Homo sapiens: one gene and its partners. The protein of the gene in region 4 purifies or fractionates together with the protein of the main gene of each other region. This does not show direct contact. Each region holds a gene or a part of one and is shown on either strand. Other genes may lie near its edges. The genes, in order: RGPD5, DDX23, ZNF318 and ZBTB46.

Region 1 (4,865 bases), on a different chromosome or scaffold from region 4:
ATTCACTATCACCAAGTAAAAGTTACAAGGTAAACAGGAAAGAATGGAATCATTTCATTGTGAAATTGTTTCTGTTCTAAGTGTTTTAAATGCTGTTTTGTTATTTTTATTTTTTTTTTCAGTATTCTCCCGAAACACCACCTCGATGGACAGAAGATCGGAATTCTTTACTGAATATGATTTGCCAACAAGTAGAGGCCATTAAGGTAAGTCACTTAATTTCTCTAGCTGTACTTTTTATTCCAAGATTCCTTCCCTGGCTACTCTCTCACTTTTTTTCTGAAGCTGGTCAGAATGTCCCCTTGCCATCCAAATAGTATGGCAAGGGGACATTTTGGTCTTTTTTTTTTTTTTTTAAGACAAGGGTCTTGTTCTGTTGTGCAGGCTGGAGTACAGTGGTATGATCACAGCTTACTGCGGCTTCAACCTCCTAGCTCAAGAGAGCCTCTTGGCTCAGCCTGCCACGAAGCCAGGACTACAGACAGTCACATGCCACCAGGCCCAGCTAATTGTTGTATTTTTTGTAGAGATGGGATTTTGCCATGTTGCCCAGGGTGGCCTTGAACTCCTGGCTCAAACAATCCTCCTGCTTCAGCCTCCCAAAGTGCTGGGATTGCAGGTGTGAGCCACTGTGCCCAGCCTACATACCTCGGTCTTGACCCTTTACCATATTTTGTTTTGTTTTGTTTTGAGATGGAGTCTCACTCTGTTGCCCAGTCTGGAGTGCAATGGTGTGATCTTGGCTCACTGCAACCTCCACCTCCCAGGTTCAAGTGACTCTCCTGCCTCAGCCTCCCGAGTAGCTGGGATTACAGGCACCCGCCACCAGGCCCAGCTAATTTTTGTATTTTTAGTAGACACAGAGTTTCACCATGTTGGCCAGGCTGGTTTTGAACTTCTGACCTCAGGTGATCTGCCCACCTTGGCCTCCCAAAGTGCTGGGATTACAGGTGTAAACCACCGCACCCAGCCCTTTACCATATTTTTGAAAGTACTTTATGTGTCTCTCTCCTCATCTTCCACAAAATTTGAGACCTTCAAAGGTAGAAACTGTTTTATTTAAAATATAAGAGTTCCTGACACAGAGAAGGTTCCCGAGTGATTGAAGTGCTACAATGTACTAATCATACTCTGGTCTATGAGTTCATTCCCAGATTAGCTGTGGATTACATGTGTTTCAAATGTATAGCTAGGAATCGAAAAGTGGTCTGAGCTTCAAAAAGTCTTACTATATTTTAATACTTCCATATGAATTTGACTTAATTATGTAAGGAAATAGTTATGTATATATATCTTATTTTAACAATAGGGTTCAAAGGAGCTTGACTTTTTTGGAATTGGAAATAAAAGTAGGTTCTTTCATGTTTATCAAGCAAGAACTAAATTACTCATACTGCTAAAGTTACATCAAGGATATGCTGATGTGTGGCGATTATTACAGTGTGATCAGCAGCATTTGCAAATTAAGAGAATACTATTTGGTGGGGAAGACATTTTTGAATTTGCACAAAAATTTTGAATGTTAATTCTGTGTAGTCGTGGCCTATGACAATTACATACAATTTTGACTTAACATACAGGTTTCAGGCTCCCAACATTGTATTCTGTGGAAGTATAGTGGAGCACTAGTCCATGAGCTTGAAAAGCTTGGTACTAGTACTGACTCTGCCATTAATTAATGATCTTGGGCCAGTCACTTCCTTTGTGACTGTTTGGCTTCTTATCTTTAAAATGAGAGAATTATTGAAGCCAGTTCTCATCACACTGAATGTTAAAAATTACAGTTACAGCAGTGATTGCAAATTCAAAGCTCTGGTGCGGATACCAACAGTGACTATAAAGTTTTCTAGGTGATTCCACTAGTTTCTTATTTCTTGGATGTGTATGTGTAGCATCTGGACTAGGCACTGTAGATGGATGAATGGGGGAAATTTTATTTAGCTTGAAAATTGAGATAGTTTTGGACCTCATGGTTAGGTCTTTCTGGGAAATTTTTAATTGAAACACTTGTAGAAACAGAAAGCAGACATGCTAGATCTGTCCCTGACCTCACTTGTTAGAACTGATCGGATTCCTGGGCTGATACAGAGAAGTTTGAAACTTTTCAAAATTTACCTGTTTTCTGATACCACTACAATTTCTTTGGAAAAAGAATTTCCTGTTAAGTGTCTGTTTTGTAAGGGGACATTTTGTAGGTTCTAGGGTGTTGGGTATGGTGCTGTCATTTAGTTTTCTTCAGCAGAGATCAAGTAGCCACATAGCTACACTAGACGGCATTGGATCTATCTGCCATCTTGTCAAGGCAGCAGAGTTGTGTTAAGAAAACATTTTTGGAGTCAGATGTGTTTCAAATTCCAGCTGTTATTCCCTGCATCCGTTTCTCTCATTTTAAGATAGGAGCTAATATTGTTTACCTAACAGTGTAGATGGTGTAAAAATTAAGAGTTTAAGTGCATTGGACGTATTATTATATACATAATAAATTCTCTGCAGCTACTACTTTTTTCCCTTTCCTGGTGGAGCATTTGAACATCACCTTGAGAATTAGTTGTATTTTGTTTGAACACAGGGTTAAGTGAAAAGCTAATTTGGGGAGGTGATTTGGAATGTCAGGTAGTCCAGGTTGCAGTGTAGAAAGAACACACTGAAAGGATGGTCAGTGTAATGTTAGAGGACTGTGAAAGTTGGGGAAAGAAGTTTAGTTTGTAGGTACTTGTTTTTTTGAGCAGGGAATTGTCTTGGCTGGAGGTGAACGTCAGAAAGGTTAATGTAGGCAAGTGTAGAATGGAAATGAAGGTGTGATCATTTAGGAGGTTATTTGTTTAGGTGAGAGAGTTAATGAATTAGGTTTTGTATTAACGAATGAAAATGGGAGCAGATAAATTTTTAACAAATTAAGAATCATATTTTAAAATCAGCACCAGGTACCTAGAACTCTTTGGCAAATAGAAACTTTCAAAAGATATAATCAGGTCCGGGCGTGGTGGGTCACACCTATAATCCCAGCACTTTGGGAGGCTGAGGTGGTGGATCACTTGAGGTCAGGAGTTCAAGACTAGCCTGGCAAACATGGTGAAACCCCATCTCTACTATTATACCAAAAATTAGCCGGGCGTGCTGGCTGACGCCTGTAATCCCAGCTACTCGGGAGGCTGAGGTGGGAGAATTGCTTGAGCCCAGGAGGTGGAGGTTGCGGTGAGCCAAGATTGTGCCATTGCACTCCAGCCTGGACGACAGATCGAGACACCATCTCAAAAAAGAAAAAAAGAAAAAATCAGTTATTTAAATTTAAAAGAGTAAGTTTCCCCAGCACTGTTTCTGGCATGATATAATTAAATGATTAAAATTATTTGATTTTTTTTTTCTTCCAATAGAAAGAAATGCAGGAGTTGAAACTAAATAGCAGTAAGTCAGCATCCCGTCATCGTTGGCCCACAGAGAATTATGGACCAGACTCGGTGCCTGATGGATATCAGGGGTCACAGACATTTCATGGGGCTCCACTAACAGGTGAGCTGGCAAGTGGATAATCGCATATTTTAGTAAAACTACTTTACTTCCCTCTTTTAAGTAGATAACGTGTGAAATCACCTTGTTTATATATGTTTGTTAATATACATGTCAACGTCTGTTTATATGTGACTTCAAAAGCTGTATTAGGTGTTACGGAGATTTTTATAATCCCAAGCAGAAAAAACGAGCCGTATGTGATCACGTGTATATAAAGGCTTAAAGAACACTTAATCCACACCTCAGATGAGCTGAGATGAGATTATTCCTTAAATTGCAAAATGTTATTGAATAGAGTTATGCACTAAGAAATGCTTAATTAAGAACCTACACCTCTGGGGAATTATTTTGATGATAATGATGAGAGGCAGGACGTTATATAGGAAATCTTACTTAATTTGAAATATTATGGTTATATAAAGAAAGAAAAGGAGTTTGGACCTGAATCATACTGGGTTTTTAAGTTCTGCTCTATCACTTACTATAATAGCTGTGTAAGTTAACCTGTCTGAAATGTGGAGATAATACTTGCCTTACATAATTACTATGAGCATTTGTGTATGTGCAGGTGGGCGTGGGTGTGTATCAGACATTTATTAGAGTATACAGTAAACAGTTAATGAACTAAGGTTACTAATAGTGTTTACTGTGGGTTGGCTGTGTGCAAAAGTGCTGTGTGAATGTAATTTGATTTAATTACAGTAACTTAGAATGGCCGGTACCATTATTAATCCCTTTTTTATAAATAAGGAAATGGATAAAGAAAGGTTAGGTAACTTACTCATTATTATACAGCTAGTTATTGATAGAGCCGAGATTCACACTCCAGTGGTGTAACTCCAAAGCACTTGCCAGTATAATACATTGCTCCCAGGCAGCCAGAAATAACAAAATTGTTCCTTTTACGTACGACAGACTTCTGAAATGGTAGTAGTAGTGCCCTTTTTTTTTTTCTCTTTTTAGCCCAGGAAAGATTTAGAAAAAAATCTAGTTTAGATGAGCACATTTGTGTGATGGTTCCTATAGTTAAGGCAACCCCACTAGCCTTTTGTGATAGTATCTTCTCAACACAAGCAAAATAACAGAAAATCTTTGTGAAGTCAAGCTTATTAAATGTCGTAAGTCATAGATAAGTATATGAAATGTCTAACGTTCAAACCTTGTTTTCTTAAAACCTTACACATCATATAGGTCCTTGTAAGAGGATAAACAAACCGGCTAGCCTTTCCTGGGGCTTTTTTAGTGATGTGTGCAGTCAGTTATTTGGTGCCTTGTGGGTCATGATTTCCATTTCTTCTGTGTACAGGCATAAAAGGTCTTCTGTTCTTATACAAGCATGTAAATCCAACATTCTC
Region 2 (4,865 bases), on a different chromosome or scaffold from region 4:
AATGAAGAAAAAAAGGGGTAGACTTATGATATGGGGTAAATGGAGATCTAACAGAAAAATGTTTTCTCATAAACTCCCACCATCCTTCCCCTTTCCAAACTCCAGAGTGAACAGGTTTCTATCTCTCCTAAGAGACACTGTATCTCATCCCACTCTTTCCTCTTCCATCTAGGGGCTACACAGGGTAGAATAACAAACCCAACATCTTCCTGCCCAAGTCTTGGAACTGTTTCCTTTTCTTCCTCTCTTCTTCAAGCATCCTCTGCCGCTCTTCCACCTCCTGCTGCCGTCGCTTTAGAGCTTCAGCCTCTCGTTCTGCTTTAGAGAGGAACTTGGGCTACAAAAGAGATTGGAACTGTCAACAAAGGATCTGGGAGCAGGGTACAATCACATCACTGATGGGGAGATGGCAGGGAACCCAAAAGTATTTGCTCAGGCATTAAGCCTGTTGAGGAAAACACAAATAGGCCTTGGACTCGGTTATGGACTGAACTATGTCCCCTACAGAATTCATATGTTTTTTCAGGCTGGACGTGGTGGCACATGCCTGTAATCCCAGTGTTTTATGAGACCTAGATGGGAGGACCGCTTGAGGCCATGAGTTCAAGACCAGCCTGGGCAACATAGCAGACCTTGTTTCTACAAAAATAAAAAAACTCAGCCAGACATGATGGCATGTGCATATAGTCCCAGCTACTCAGGAGGCTGAGGCAGGAAAATCATATGAGCCCAGGAGTTTGAGGTTACAGTGAGCTGTGATTGCACCACTGTACTTTAGCCTGGGCAAACGAGCAAGACCTTACCTTTAAAAAAAAAAAAAAAATGTGGCCGAGTGCGGTGGCTTGTGCCTGTAATCCTAGCACTTTGGGAGGCCGAGATGGGCGGATCACGAGGTCAGGAGTTCAAGACAAGCCTGGCCAGCACAGTGAAACCCTATCTCTACTAAAAAAATACAAAAAATTAGCCAGGCATGGTGGCACGTGCCTGTAATCCCAGCTACTCAGGAGGCTGAGGCAGGAGAATTGCTTGAACCTGGGAGGCAGAGGTTGCAGTGAGCCGAGATCATGCCACTGCACTCCAGCCTGGGCAACGGGGCGAGACTCCATCTCAAACAAACAAACAAACAATGCATGTGTTATATATATTTTTTGAGACAGACTCTCGCTCTGTTGCCCAAGCTGCAGTACAGTGGTGTCATCATGGCTCACTGCAGCTTCAACCTCCTGGGCTCAAGCAATATCCTTGCCTCAGCCTCCTGAGTAGCTGGGACTACAGGCGCATGCTACCACAGATGGCTAATTTTTAAAATTTTATAGAGATGGGTTTTCACCATGTTGCCTAGGCTGGTCTAAAAATCCCTGGCTCAAGTGATCCTCCCATCTTGGCCTTCCAAAGTATTGGGATTACAGGTGTGAGCCACTGTACCCAGCTCAAAATTCCTATGTGGAAGCCCTAACTCCTAGTACCTCAGAATTTGACTATATGTGGAGACAGGACATGTAAAGAGGTGATTAAGTTAAAATGAGCCCATTAGGCTGGGCACAGTGGCTCACGCCTGTAATCCCAGCACTTTGTGAGGCCAAGGAGGGCAGATCACTTGAGCCCAGGGGTTCGAGACCAGCCTGGACAACGTGGTGAAATCTGGACTCTACAAAAAATACAAAAATTAGCTGGACGTTGTGGCACGCACCTGTAGTCCCAGATACTTGGGAGGCTGAGGTGGGAGGATTGCTTCAGCCTGGGAGGTGGAGGTTGAAGTGAGCCGATATCATGCCACTGTACTCCATCCTGGGCGACAGAGTGAGACTCTGTCTCAAAAAAAAAAAAAAAAAAAAAAAAAAGGGCCTTTTAGGGTGAGCCCTAATCCAACACAAGGGGTACATGTGTACAGAGGGAGGACCATGTGAAGAGCTGAGGAAGAAGACAGCCTTATAAGCCAAGGAGAGAGACCTCAGAAGAAATAACCCTGCTGACACTCCGCTCTCAGACTTCCAGCCTCCAGAACTGTGAGAAAATTAACTTCTGTCGTTGAAGTCACCCAGTCTGTGGTATTGTGTTATGGCAGCCTGAGCCGATGAATGAAGACCCTCAAGTACTTACCTTAGCCTCAGCTTCTTCCTCAGCCTTTTTCTTGGCCAGAAGCTCCTCCAGGGATAATGGCTGGGCCTGAAGATAAAACAGAACTTTAGTCTATAAAGGCTCTCTCCCTTTAAAGATCAACAAAGCAACGCACGAGTTGAAGATGAAAAATATCCTTCCTCTCCTTTACCTTAGGCTTCTTATCACCATGTTCATCCTCTTCATCCTTCTTAGAGTCTCTGTCCTTCCGAGATTTAAAGTCTTTTCCTCGACCAGGAGATAAGCTTTGAGGAAAAGGAACAAGGTCCACATCACTCTTACTTCAGTGCCTGGATGAGGTTCAAGTTGAGCCCCGAAAAGAGAATGGAAGTTTCCCCATGACTCAACAAGACTGGCCCATGGTCATCTATCATGTCTTGAAACTCTCTTAGCAGGCATGGTCATTCTGCCAGCTCTGAAACCTAATTATGGCCCTGTCTTGGCCCCTTTCTACCCAAATCTCCTTTTGAGACTAATCTCTTTTGGGAAGTGGGACTTTACTACTGATGTCAAAAATATTTCCCCTAGGCCAGGCGCGGTGTCTCATGCCTATAATCCCAGCACTTTGGGAGGCTAAGACAGGTGGGTTACCTGAGGTCAGGAGTTCAAGACCAGCCTGGCCAACATGGCAAAACCCTGTCTCTAGTAAAAACACAAAAATTAGCCAGGTGTGGTTGTTTAGAGAAAAATTTTTTTTTTTTTTTTTTTTGAGACACAGTCTCACTCTGTCGCCCAGGCTGGAGTGCAATGGTGTGATCTCAGCTCACTGCAACCTCCGCCTCCTGGGTTCAAGAAATTTTCCTGCCTCAGCCTCCTGAGTAGCTGGGACTACAGGCGAGTACTGCCACCACTGGCTAATTTTTATATTTTTAGTAGAGACGAGGTTTCATCATGTTGGCCAGGCTGGTCTCGAACTCTTGACCTCAGGTGATACATCCACCTCGGCCACCCAAAGTGCTAGGATTACAGGTGTGAGCCACAGCGCCTGGCCCTCCTTAACTCTTTAATATACAATGAATTTAGCCTACATGGCCACCACCACAAGCCAAGAAGATACTGCTATCTATATTCCCTCATCATTTTTCATTCCTATCAATCCCAACAATCCTTTCCCCATACCTGCTCTAAGCTTAATCTACAAGATAATTCAAACAACCCCACTGAGTTTCTGTTAGGAGCATTCTGTCCTCTGCCTTGAATTCTAACCTATACTTTCAGGGCCTGATAAGAACTCTGTATACAGGCCAGGCACAATGGCTCACGCCTGTAATCCCAGCACTTTGAGAGGCCGAGGTGGCCGGATCACCTAAGGTCAAGAGTTCGAGACCAGCCTGGCCAACATGGAGAAACCCTGTCTCTACTAAAAATACAAAAATTAGCCAGGCATGGTGGCGCATGCCTGTATTCCCAGCTACTTGGGAGGCTGAGGCAGGAAAATTGCCTGAACCCAAGAGGCAGAGGTTGCAGTGAGCCGAGATCGTGCCATTGCACTCCAGCCTGGGCAACAGAACAAAAACTCCATCTCAAAAAAACCCCCAAAGATTCAGAGAAGAATCCATAGATAGAAAAGCTTCAGGCTCCCTCTCCCCTCTCCCCTCTCCCCACGGTCTCCCTCTCCCTCTCTTTCCATGGTCTCCCTCTGATGCTGAGCCAAAGCTGGACCGTACTGCTGCCATCTCGGCTCACTGCAACCTCCCTGCCTGATTCTCGTGCCTCAGCCTGCCGAGTGCCTGCGATTGCAGGCGTGCGCCGCCACGCCTGACTGGTTTTCGTATTTTTTTGGTGGAGACGGGGTTTCGCTGTGTTGGCCGGGCTGGTCTCCAGCTCCTGACCGCGAGTGATCCGCCAGCCTCGGCCTCCCGAGGTGCCGGGATGGCACACGGAGTCGCGTTCACTCAGTGCTCAATGGTGCCCAGGCTGGAGTGCAGTGGCGTGATCTTGGCTCGCTACAACCTCCACCTCCCAGCTGCCTGCCTTGGCCCCCCAAAGTGCCGAGATTGCAGCCTCTGCCCGGCCGCCATCCCATCTAGGAAGTGAGGAGCGTCTCTGCCAGGCCGCCCATCGTCTGAGATGTGGGGAGCGCCTCTGCCCTGCCGCCCCGTCTGGGATGTGAGGAGCGTCTCTGCCCGGCCGCCCCGTCTGAGAAGTGAGGAGACCCTCTGCCTGACAACCGCCCCGTCTGAGAAGTGAGGAGCCCCTCCGCCCGGCAGCCACATCGTCTGAGAAGTGAGGAGCCCCTCCGCCTGGCAGCCACCCCGTCTGGGAAGTGAGGAGCGTCTCCGCCCGGCAGCCACCCCGTCCGGGAGGGAGGTGGGGGGGGTTAGCTCCCCACCCGGCCAGCCGCCCCGTCCAGGAGGGAGGTGGGGGGGTCATCCCCCCACCCGGCCAGCCGCCCATCCGGGAGGGAGGTGGGGGGGTCAGCCCCCGGCCCGGCCAGCCGCCCTGTCCGGGAGGTGAGGGGCGCCTCTGCCCGGCCGCCCCTACTGGGAAGTGAGGAGCCTCTCTGCCCAGTCAGCCGCCCCGTCCGGGAAGGAGGTGGGGGAGGTCAGCCCCCCGCCCGGCCAGCCGCCCCATCCGGGAGGGAGGTAGGGGGGTCAGCCCCCCGCCCGGCCAGCCACCCCGTCCGGGAGGAAGGTGGGGGGGTCAGCCCCCCGCCCGGCCAGCCGCCCCGTCCGGGAGGGAGGTGGGGGGGTCAGCCCCCCGCCCGGCCAGCCGCCCCGTCCAGGAGGTGAGGGGCGCCTCTGCCC
Region 3 (4,865 bases), on a different chromosome or scaffold from region 4:
CAGCCTGGCCAAAGAAACCGCATCTCTACTAAAAATACAAAAAATTAGCCTGGCATGGTAGTCCGCACCTGTAATCCCAGCTACTCAGGAGGCTGAGGCAGGAGAATTGCTAGAACCTGGGAGGCGGAGGTTGCAGTGAGCCGAGATTGCAGCATTGCACTCCAGCCAGGCAACAGTGCAAGACTCTGTCTCAAAAAATAAATAAATAAAAATAAAAAAATAAATGAATTTTTAAAAAATAAACATCTACATACACGTCTTTTTTTTTTTTTTTTTTTTTTTGAGACAGAGTCTTGTTCTGTGCAGTGGCACAATCTGGGCTCACTGCAAACTCTGCCTCCCAGGTTCAAGCTTCTCCTGCCTCAGCCTCTGGAGTAGCTAAGACTACAGGCATGCGCCACCACTGGGTAATTTTTGTATTTTTGGTAGAGACAGGATCTCATCATGTTGGCCAGGATGGTCTCGAACTCCTGACCTCAAGTGATTGGCCCACCTCAGCCTCCCAAAGTGCTGGGATTACAGGTATGAGCCACTGCGCCAGGCCCAAACATCTACATACAAAGGATATAAATGGCCTGTATCATTGGTTGAAGACTAGACTCACTGTCAGGAGACAACCTGAGTATGCCAATGGTCCTGTGGCCTGGTTTTAGTGGACAGTAATTATCCACACAAACCATACTGAACAAAAGGGAAAGAAGAGAAATGTGTAGGGGGCAACAGTATTTTTTAAATGGCCTTGTATCTTTGTTTAGAACCTTAATCTCACTTTCTCTAAAGTAGACCTGTGCCTCTGAAACACATGATTCTACAAAGAAGACTGCTGCCCCAAACTCCTTAAGAGGAAAAATTTTAATTTTTGTAATTTAAAAATATAATTAGTTCTATCTGAAGCACATGTGCATAACAAAGTTTATGCAAAGGGGAAGTGACATCCTAGGCCTAAGAAGAACTGCTGAAGCTAACTCAAAACCTCAGCAAAGAATGAAGACAATCACACTATGTACCACCTACCCAGACTACCTACTCAATAATTTCCCCAAACAGAAGCAGCCAGAAGAGCAAGGGCTATTGCCTCAATTAAGTGATACAGTCACATATCTTGAAGCCCTTTAGAAGCTTCAATGTTATATGACATAAGACTATTTTGCCTTGCTTCTTCTCTGAGAAAACACCAAATGGCAGATGATGTCGGTGGAGGGGGTGGGGCGGGGGCAGAGGCCCCGGGGGCCCTGGGATGGGAAACCGTGGTGGCTTCCATGGAGGGGCTGGGGTTGCAGCTGTGGACAGGGCTGAGGCCACGGAGCTCGTGGAGGCAAGGCCAAGGATAAGGAGTGGATGCCTGTCACCAAGCTGGGCTGCTTGGTTAAGGACATAAAGATCAAGTCCCTGGAGAACTACCTCTTCTTCCTGCCCATCAAGGAATCTGAGATCACTGACTTTTTCCTGGGGGCCTCTCTCAAGGATGAGGTGTTGAAGATTATGCCAGTGCAGAAGCAGACCCACACTGGCCAGTTGAAAAGGTTCAAGGCGTTTGTTGCCATCGGGGACTACAATGGCCACGTCGGTCTGGGTGTTAAGTGCTCCAAGGAGGTGGCCACTGCCACCTGCGGGGCCATCATCCTGGCCAAGCTCTCCATTCTCCCTGTGCACAGAGGCTACTGGGGGAACAAGATCCACAAGCCCCACACCGTTCCTTGCAAGGTGACAGGCTACTGCGGCTCTGTGCTGGTGCACCTCATCCCTGCGCCCAAGGGCACTGGCATCGTCTCAGCCCGTGCCCAAGAAGCTGCTCATGATGGCTGGTATTGATGACTGCTACACCTCAGCCAGGGGCTGCACTGCCACCCTGGGCAACTTCGCCAAGGCCACCTTTGATGCCATCTCTAAGACCTACAGCTACCTGACCCCCGACCTCTGGAAGGAGACAGGATTCACCAAGTCTCCCTATCAGGAATTCACTGACCACCTCATCAAGACACACACCAGAGTCTCTGTGCAGAGGACGTAGGCTCCAGCTGTGGCTACAACATAGGGTTTTTATACAAGAAATATAAAGTGAATTAAGCCTGAAAAAAAAAAAAAAAAAAGACTGTTCTGCCTTGCTTCACTGCATCCACAGCCAATGGAACTTTTAGGTATTACCAACGGCAAAACTGGTCCTCAGACTTCCTGCCCAGCTCTCCCCCACCCGCCTAGCTATGCTCTGTGCAACACGGCAAGCGACAGTCTCAGTTTGAAATTACATTACATTGATTTATTGCTACTGCTAATCATTTGTCAAAACTCCCAATGTGCTGGGCAGAGACCATAACAGTCATGGTCTCAGCTCTGAGAAAGAGTGCTTTCCTGAACTCCCATCCATACTTTGACTTTTGTGAGGTGAAAAACACCTAATGTGATTATTTACAATCTATATATGGTTAAGTTCCTAGTACCTGAGGTCTATATCCAACTCTCTTGAGTGTATCTACCCTTCCTCAGCACTCAATAGTTGTAAAATAATAACTGAACTTAAACATTTTTGAAGGTCTCTAGCTTTCTATTAATACTTTATCTACTTCACATACACACATATATTAGACATGAACTTACCTAACCCTTTCTGAATCTGTTTCAGCCTGGATAAACTAAAAAATAACACCATTTTAAAAAGACTTCCCATTTTGTCCAGAACTTTTCTTTGGAGAAGGGACTGCTCATAGTTTCACTGTTTTAGAATCTATACCATCTCAACTGTTCTTCATTTGGGGGACTCTGATTATGTCCCCTCAGCCTCTTCTTTCTAGTCAGACTCAGATGACCTTTTTAAAGTCTTTTTTTCTATACAATTTATTCAACAACAGAGTCTACACATCATTATACTCCTCCCACTTAGAAATTCTATCCCAGCGTTTTATTTTGTACTGGACATGTGGCATAGGAAATAACTTTAGAGCTGGCACCATCCTTTCAAATATATCATTCGGAAAACAGCAACATTTCTGCCTTCAAGTACTAGTATAGTAGGCCCTGCCTTAGGTGATGCCTACCTGTCCATGTCTTCCAGATTATCCACTGGTGACCCCAGCCGATCACTAAGCCGTCGCCGTTCTGGTGTGCTAACACAGAAGTGGTCATTGCCAACAGTGATCCTTAAGCTCTTTTCCAAAGAGTCAGAACACAGACCAGGAGAGCGTCTCTACAAAAGTAAAGGATAATATGGTTAGTCAATAGGGTCAAGACATCCCTACATCCAAAAACTCTCCTCCCTAGTTACAAAGTTAGCCAGGCATGGTGGCTCATGCCTGTATACCCAACACTTTGGGAGGCTGAGGTGTATAGGCCCAGGCAAGAATGTGAGACCAGTCTGGGCAACACAGACTCCATCTCTATAAAAAAAAGTTTAAAATTAGCCAGGTGTGGTCCCAACTACTCAGGTGGCTGAGGTGGGAGGATAGCTTAAGCTTGGGAGGTCAGGGCTGCAGTGAGCCATGACTGCACCACAGCACTTCAGCCTGGGCAATGAGCAGGACCTTGTCTCAAAAACAAAAGACAACCCTGCAAAGTTGGGGTTCAACAAGGTGAGAAATGGTTATGGTAAGACACTATACCAAAAATAAAGCACTTTTTAAAAATTATCATTTTCTTAGAGATATAAGCCCATACCTCTAACTCTCCTAAACGGTGACCTCTCATTCTTACTGGGCATGGGAAAAGAGAAGTGAATAAAGTCCCTGCTCTCAGAACCCTACTTCTAGTGTACATACTTCTAGTGAAGGAGGTAAGCCAAAAACAAGTTTAAAGAAAAAAAAAATTCTTCTGGTAAGTGCTATAGTCATTAAAACATGGTACCATAAAAGGAGTTACTTCAGATAGGATGGTTAGAAAAGGTTTTTCTCAGGTGATAACCTGAGGCCTGAAGAATGAGGTGTCAGCTTTGCAAAGAACAGGTAGAAAGATGTTTCAGGCAAAGAAAAGAACCACCTCAGTATAGAGCTTGGTATACTTTAAGTAACAGAAAAGCGGCCGGTGTGGCTGCAGCAAAGTGACAGAAGAGGAAAAGATAGGCAGAAAGCACAGTTGGGAAATTTGGATTTTATTCTTAGTGCAATTAACAGTTATAGGAGGGTTTTACACAGGATAGTGACATCATCTGACTACATTTTTCCTCCAGATGCTTGCACAGCACACCCTCACCTCCTTCAGATCTTTATTCAAAAATCACCTTCCCAGGAGGCCTTCCCTGACTACTCTCAAAAATTTTAACTCCCCGGGCCAGGCATGGTAGCTTATGCCTGTAAGCCCAGCATTTTGGGAGGCTGAGGCAGGAGAATCACTTGAGGCCAGGAGTTTGAGACCAGCCTGGGCAACATAGTGAAATCCCTCCCCACACCAAAACATTTTTTTAAAATAAAATCAGCTGGGATGTTGGTACGCACCTGTAGTCCCAGCTACTCAGGATGCTGAGGTGAGAGGATCGCTTGAGCGTGGGAGTTTGAGACTGCAGTGAGCTATGATCACACCACTACACTCAAGCCCGGGTGACAGAGCAACACTATATTACATACACACACACGCACACAAACTGTAACTCCCTTCTCTGCTCTTAGTCCTTTTTTTTTTGTTTTGTTTGAGACTTGCTCTGTCGTCCCCAGCCTGGAGTGCAGTGGCACGATCTCGGCTCACTGCAAGCTCCGCCTCCCAGGTTCATGCCATTCTCCTGCCTCAGCCTCCCAAGTAGCTGGGACTACAGGTGCCCGCCACCAAGCCCGACTAATTATTGTATTTTTAGTAGAGACGGTGTTTCACCGTGTTAGCCAACATGGTCTCGATCTCCTGACCTCGTGATCCGCCTGCCTCGGCCTCCCAAAGTGCTGGGATTA
Region 4 (5,544 bases):
GGGATTACAGGCGTGAGCCACCACGCCCAGCCTCAGAACCACTTTTAGGTTGTTAAAAAACATCCTTTCTCTTTTCCATCTATAAACAACACCATTGGGGCCCTTTGTCATCACCAGCAAACCAGAACACCAAGCCTGGGTCTGTATATGTGAGGCACTCAAAGGGTCTAAGTGATAACAGAAAAGCAGGAAAATCCCTCCCATGGACCCCATGGCCTAAGACCCCAGCACTCCGCACAAGTTCACAGCTACGCCGCAGCCGCGGCAGACGGCAAGAGGACCACAATCAGGATAAGGCGGCGGCCTCTCAAAGCCCTGAATAAGTCTGTGGCCTTAATAGAGATTTTGAATCAAACATTTATTCTTAGGAGTCAGGCCATTCAAGCAAACTTAGCAGCAACAAGATGAATTTTTCCCCCAGGGGAGGGGACAGATTCAAAGGGTATTTTTTTTTTTAAATCTGCTAGAAAAACCAGTAGAGGGAAGTATCAACCATCACTCAAGGTCACTCATGAGACTTCCAGGTAAAACATGCAAAGCCCAGGGAGAAGCAGCAGCCTGAGTTTTTACAAGAACGGTACTTAGGCAAGAACACGAAGTCCCCAGGACAGGGAACCTACCACGGCAGACGCCGTGACACTGGGTGTGCGGATGGGAAGGGGCAAGGACTTCTAGACCTTTCCTCTCACTTTAACTCAGCAGTGGAGCGGGTGCCTGGGCACCAGTCACGGCAGTGGGAGGAACCGGCTCCAGTTCTCAGGCTGTGGAGCCGTCTAGGCACCGTGCACGAAGTGGGTCTCCAGGGCTCTGAGAGGCCGGGCTAAGACCTCTGATGGAGAACAGAGCACTGGAGCTGCACCGCTGTCCCAGAAACACAGGCCACAGGGACAGAGTGGCCCAATTTCCCTTAATTTAAAAACCCCACGTCAGGGCAGTGTTGGAAAGTTCACTCTGCTAAAATTTAATTCAGTGTTTGTAAATAGTACATCGTCTGACAATAACAACTGTGTACCCCCCACGGCATTTCCTCTAAATCCTTGGAGCAGTTTCACCGTTCACAGGGTTTACCTCCTGACCTCTGTGACCACCAGGGGCTGGGGAGGGACGGAGGACGCAGGGCACTGGGTCAGCCTGGCCCTGGTGGAACTGACCTGGGGGCCCTTAGGTAACAGTCCACCCAACCCGAACATCCGAAACAGGAGTGGAACTCAGGTCTGAGCACAGAACGACTCATCCTCACACAAAACAGCTAAACCCGAACAGAAATCACCTCATCTAAGCAAAAGAAAACTCTCACGTTCAGGATAATGCTGTCAGTGAGAGGCTTAATTAAATGCTTGTCCCCAGGCTGGCCTGAAGGCAAGGCGGAATTTCGGATTTCTAAACACCTCAAAGTGAGTGCATTCCACGCCCCAAGGAGAAATCTGACAGTAACTCCCCAGCCCTCTTCCTTCAGTTACGGAGAAGATGTCTAGCTTTTTAGGGGACACAGTAAGTTCCCACCTAAATTTGCAGTAACTTGTGCCCAAGTACTCCCCTCACTCCTCAGTCCTTTCTGCAGTGGTAACCAGGCTGAGGTGCCCAAAAGTGCCAGTTGGAAACACGTAAAACACACCGAGCAGAAAGGTTCTACTCTGATAAATACTGTCGCTTGCTTCATTATTCATGTGAAAAACCCCTTCTATACATTTCCTTTTGATGAACAAACTATTTTCCACTCTTGTAGAGTGAAATAGTGCCTTGCAGAGGCAGCGTGAGTGCCAGCAGCAGAGATGTATCCAGTCTGTTACCCAAACGGGAAGTTAGCTCTGATAATAGAGCCAATATGAAAGATTCTACAATCGATACAATTAAAATGCCCGTGAGTTCTCGGCGCACAGGTGTCTGCGCCCAGGCCGCGCGCTAAACACGTTTCTAATTAGCATTTCTTTAAACAATGCTGATCACAATCTTGCCACCGTAATCCACTCCAAATGCATCGTTGAGATTGCAGCACGGAAAGCGAGAGAGGAAATTCGCTGCGAATCTCAAACTTTCTTTTGTTTATATTTCTTCGCTGTCAGAAAATATCCGTTCTTCGCCCCATCTGGTCTGTACCCTGGCTCCTCGGTCCAGCCCTATTGTGTGTGCTTCGTTAAACCTACAAACAGTGAATCTGTCAGCGGGGCCAGGGGAACCCCAACTAGCAGGAGCCCTCCCTCTGGCGCAGAGAATTCCCCGTTTGCCTTAGGGATTGAGTTGTCAGACACCGGCTCGCGCTCCCCCGCGAAACTGACATGTCTATTTACAGAGAAACAAAGACGCGGCTCGCAGCGGACCCCGCTTCCTCCGCGCGCCCCGTCCGCCCCGCGCGCCCCGAGCCCTCCGCGCCCCGAGCCGCCCCGCCCCGAGGCCCCTGCGCCCCGGTTCGGCCGGCGATTAAGATGGAGACCAGGCCGGCGCCCGGCGTCCGGGGAGACAATGACCCCCCGGCCTCAGGGCGCCGGGACCCGCCCGCGCCCACCTCCCGCAGTTCCGACTCTTGGCAAACTCGGCGCGGGCGGCTCCGGGTGCGGCTGGGCTGTGCCGGCGGGGGGCGCGGGCGGGGGGCGCCAAGACGCCCCCGGGCTGCCTCGGGGCCAGGCGTTGACGCAGCAGAAATTACCAGCTGGAAAATTCCCCTCTCGGAGGTGCCGGGGAGGGAGCGCGGCGGCGGCGGGAGGTGCCGGGGGCCGAGGGGCCGGGGCAGCCCAGCCGCCTCCGCGCTCAGCCCCGCGGGGAACCCGCGCCGCCCCCGCGCGCCCCGCCCCGCGCCGCCGGCCTGGGGGGCACCCGCGGGGGCCGGGCCGGGGTCTCCGCCGCCGCCCCCGGAGCCCGCGCCGCAGCTGGGAGCGCCGATGGCCCCCGGGAGGGCGCCCCCGCGGGGCGGGGCGTGGCGGGGCGGCCGGCGGCGGGGGCGCGCCCGGGCTCGCAGCGGCCCCGGCTCCCGGCTCCCGGCTCCGGGCCCGGCCCCCGCCGCGATGCGCCCGCCCGGCCGCGCGGACAATGAGCCGGCGCCGCTTACCTGTGACCCCATGGGGCGCGGGCGAGGGCGGGCGCCGCGGCCGCCGGGCCGGCGCCGGTGATCGCCGCCGCCGCCGGGAGGGCGCTGCGTCCGGGCGGGTCCGAGCTGCGCGCTCGCCGGGGCTGCTCGGTCCGTCCGTCCGTCCGTCGGTCCGTCAGGCCGGCGCGCGCCCCCGCGCCCGCTCCAACCCCGCGGCCCCCGCCGCCCGCGCGCGCGCGCCCCGCCCGCGGACCCTGACCCCGCCCCCCGGCGCGCGCCCGGCCGCCGCTGATTGGCCCGCGCCGCGCCCCGGCCGCGGCCACCGCCCCGGGCCCCGCCCACGCCGGCCCGGCCGCCGGCCCCGCCCCTCGCTCGGCTCCCGGCGCCGCGCCGCGGGGTCGCAGGGGGCCGCGCCGGGGGTCCGTTCTCCCCCCCGCGGGCAGCCGGACAGCGGAAGTGCGGGCTGGAGCTCGCTGGGCATTGTGGGAAGCCCCCTCCCCTGGGCTGGCGGGGGGCTGGGGCGGCGCGGCGCGGGGGTCCCCCTGGCCCCCGCTGCGCCCTTGCCCCGCGAGCGCGGAGCAGCCTGGAAACACCCCACGGGAGCGGCGACCCCGGCGAGGGCACCCGCTCCCTTCCCGGGCCGCGCACCGGGCGCTGCCCACGCGCAGGTTCCTCGGGGGCGCGCGGGTGCCCAGGTCACCGGCCGTCCCCGCGCCTGACGCGCGGTTGCACTGCGCGCGTCTCGCAAACTTGGCGACTCCCCCAGCCCGGCCGGGCATCAACGCGGGCCGCTCGCGGTGCGGAAAAGGCGCCCCCAAGGAAGGCCGCCCGGGGTGCGGGGTCTGGAAGGGCCTGGGCACCGCGCGCGCCTACCCTCGGGGGCCTCGGCGCACCCGGAGATCGGCGCACCTCGGGCGCAGGCCTCGTGGGGGTGCCCGCCAGTGGGGCTCGCTTTTGGCTGACTAGGGGCACCGGCGGCCGCGCGTGGGTCCCTCCCGTCGTGTTGTCTGCGGGGGACGAATGGCTCCGGGAGGGGGCGGGAACCAGCGGCCCGGGCCTCGCCCCAGCCCGTGTGCAGCCCCGATCCGAACGGCCTGGGACGCGTCTCCACCACTCGGCGCCCGGACTCTGCGCGTCGCTTCTCGCCTCCGCCGTCCTCAGCCCTCGGGCGGGTAGAGTGGGAAGCGCGGCCCCGCATTCCTGGCCGGCCTGCGCAGGGGTAAAGGCCACCTCGCTTCCTCTCCCCGGGCGCGGCGGGAAGGGAGGTGAGCCTGTGGCCGGCAGCCGCGCGAGGGAGTCGAGCCCGGCCCGGCCAACCAATGGGGAGGCGCCCGGGCCGTCCAGCCTGCCTCCCTGCGGGCCCAGCGCAGCGGATTCCTCGGGAGGTGGGAGGCGGCGGCCCTATGGGTGCTTTCAAATCTGGATGTGTGAGGCGCATTCAGGAGCGGCAGTGGGAGGCGGCTGAGGGCTCTCCATGAGTGAGCAAAGGCGAAGCGAGGTGTGGCTGCCGGGACCAACGCCTGGGACACTCCCTTACTGCCGTCGCGGGCGCCTGGAAATGGCTGTGCGGACACCCCGTTCCCATCCCCTCGCCAAGGTCGCCGGGATGGCACTGCGGCCCAGGAAGCCCCGTCGCCGGCCTACCTCGCGCGGCACCCTCTCGGTGGCACTGCCTGCTCTGGTCTGAAACTGTAGCCCCAGCCTCACCGACCTTCGGGAAGTGGGGGCTGAGCACAACCACCCTGAGAAGAGGCGGCTTCCAGGAGGGTCTGGCGGGTCACGTGCATCCCCCTTGGAGAAAACAGCACTGCCTGCAGGAGCCCCCACCTGCCCACCCAGAGCCCAGTTGTACCCCACGGAGGAAAGGAGGCCTGGGGAGACAGGAGAGCTCGGGCCCACCGAGCCAAAGCAAGGAGGACCAGAGCCCTGATGCCTGCCCCAAGGGCCTCCCGCAGAGCCTGCCCATGCTCTCTTGCGCAAAAGAGAACCCCAGTCTCTCCCAAGATGTCTGGACCTCCCTAGACAGCCTCCAAGGAGAGCAGTGTTGATGGTTTGCCATGTCCGTTGTCCATGCAGGGATGGAGAGCAGCAGCAGCTGCCTGGCGGAACACACAGTGGCACTCAGTCATCGCTTAGGAGGCCTGCCCATAAGAACCAAACCTTGATCTCACCACGACCCAGGCCAACCCCACCTGCCAGGTTAGGGCTGCCTGTCTTGGTAGAAACTTGCTGAGGGCCGGGCGCGGTGTCTCACGCCTGTAATCCCAGCACTTTGGGAGGCCGAGGCAGGCGGATCACGAGGTCAGGAGATCGAGACCATCCTGGCTAACACGGTGAAACCCCGTCTCTACTAAAAATACAAAAAATTAGCCAGGCGTGGTGGCAGGTGCCTGTAGTCCCAGCTACTCGGGAGGCTGAGGCAGGAGAATGGCGTCAACCCGGGAGGTGGAGCTTGCAGTGAGCCAAGTTCGTGCCGCTGCACTCCAGCCTGGGCGACAGAGCAAGACTCTGTCTCAAAAAAG

What was found.
Region 1: the proteins of ZBTB46 (region 4) and RGPD5 purify together in Homo sapiens (affinity purification with mass spectrometry, with the first as the bait; one large-scale study listed by BioGRID). This does not show direct contact.
Region 2: the proteins of ZBTB46 (region 4) and DDX23 purify together in Homo sapiens (affinity purification with mass spectrometry, with the first as the bait; one large-scale study listed by BioGRID). This does not show direct contact.
Region 3: the proteins of ZBTB46 (region 4) and ZNF318 purify together in Homo sapiens (affinity purification with mass spectrometry, with the first as the bait; one large-scale study listed by BioGRID). This does not show direct contact.

The regions. Positions count from the first base shown.
Region 1 is NC_000002.12:109,827,943-109,832,807, forward strand, and holds part of RGPD5 (RANBP2-like and GRIP domain-containing protein 5/6), read left to right. Parts: coding exon 1-29; intron 30-122; coding exon 123-206; intron 207-3,374; coding exon 3,375-3,510; intron 3,511-4,865.
Region 2 is NC_000012.12:48,837,744-48,842,608, forward strand, and holds part of DDX23 (probable ATP-dependent RNA helicase DDX23), read right to left. Parts: intron 2,364-4,865; coding exon 2,270-2,363; intron 2,167-2,269; coding exon 2,101-2,166; intron 338-2,100; coding exon 199-337; intron 1-198. UniProt on the Homo sapiens protein: Involved in pre-mRNA splicing and its phosphorylated form (by SRPK2) is required for spliceosomal B complex formation.
Region 3 is NC_000006.12:43,362,260-43,367,124, forward strand, and holds part of ZNF318 (zinc finger protein 318), read right to left. Parts: intron 3,182-4,865; coding exon 3,033-3,181; intron 1,961-3,032; exon of another isoform or gene 1,156-1,960; intron 1-1,155.
Region 4 is NC_000020.11:63,828,054-63,833,597, forward strand, and holds the start of ZBTB46 (zinc finger and BTB domain-containing protein 46), read right to left. Parts: upstream 3,212-5,544; 5' UTR 3,044-3,211; intron 2,778-3,043; exon of another isoform or gene 2,645-2,777; intron 2,585-2,644; exon of another isoform or gene 2,504-2,584; intron 1-2,503. UniProt on the Homo sapiens protein: Functions as a transcriptional repressor for PRDM1.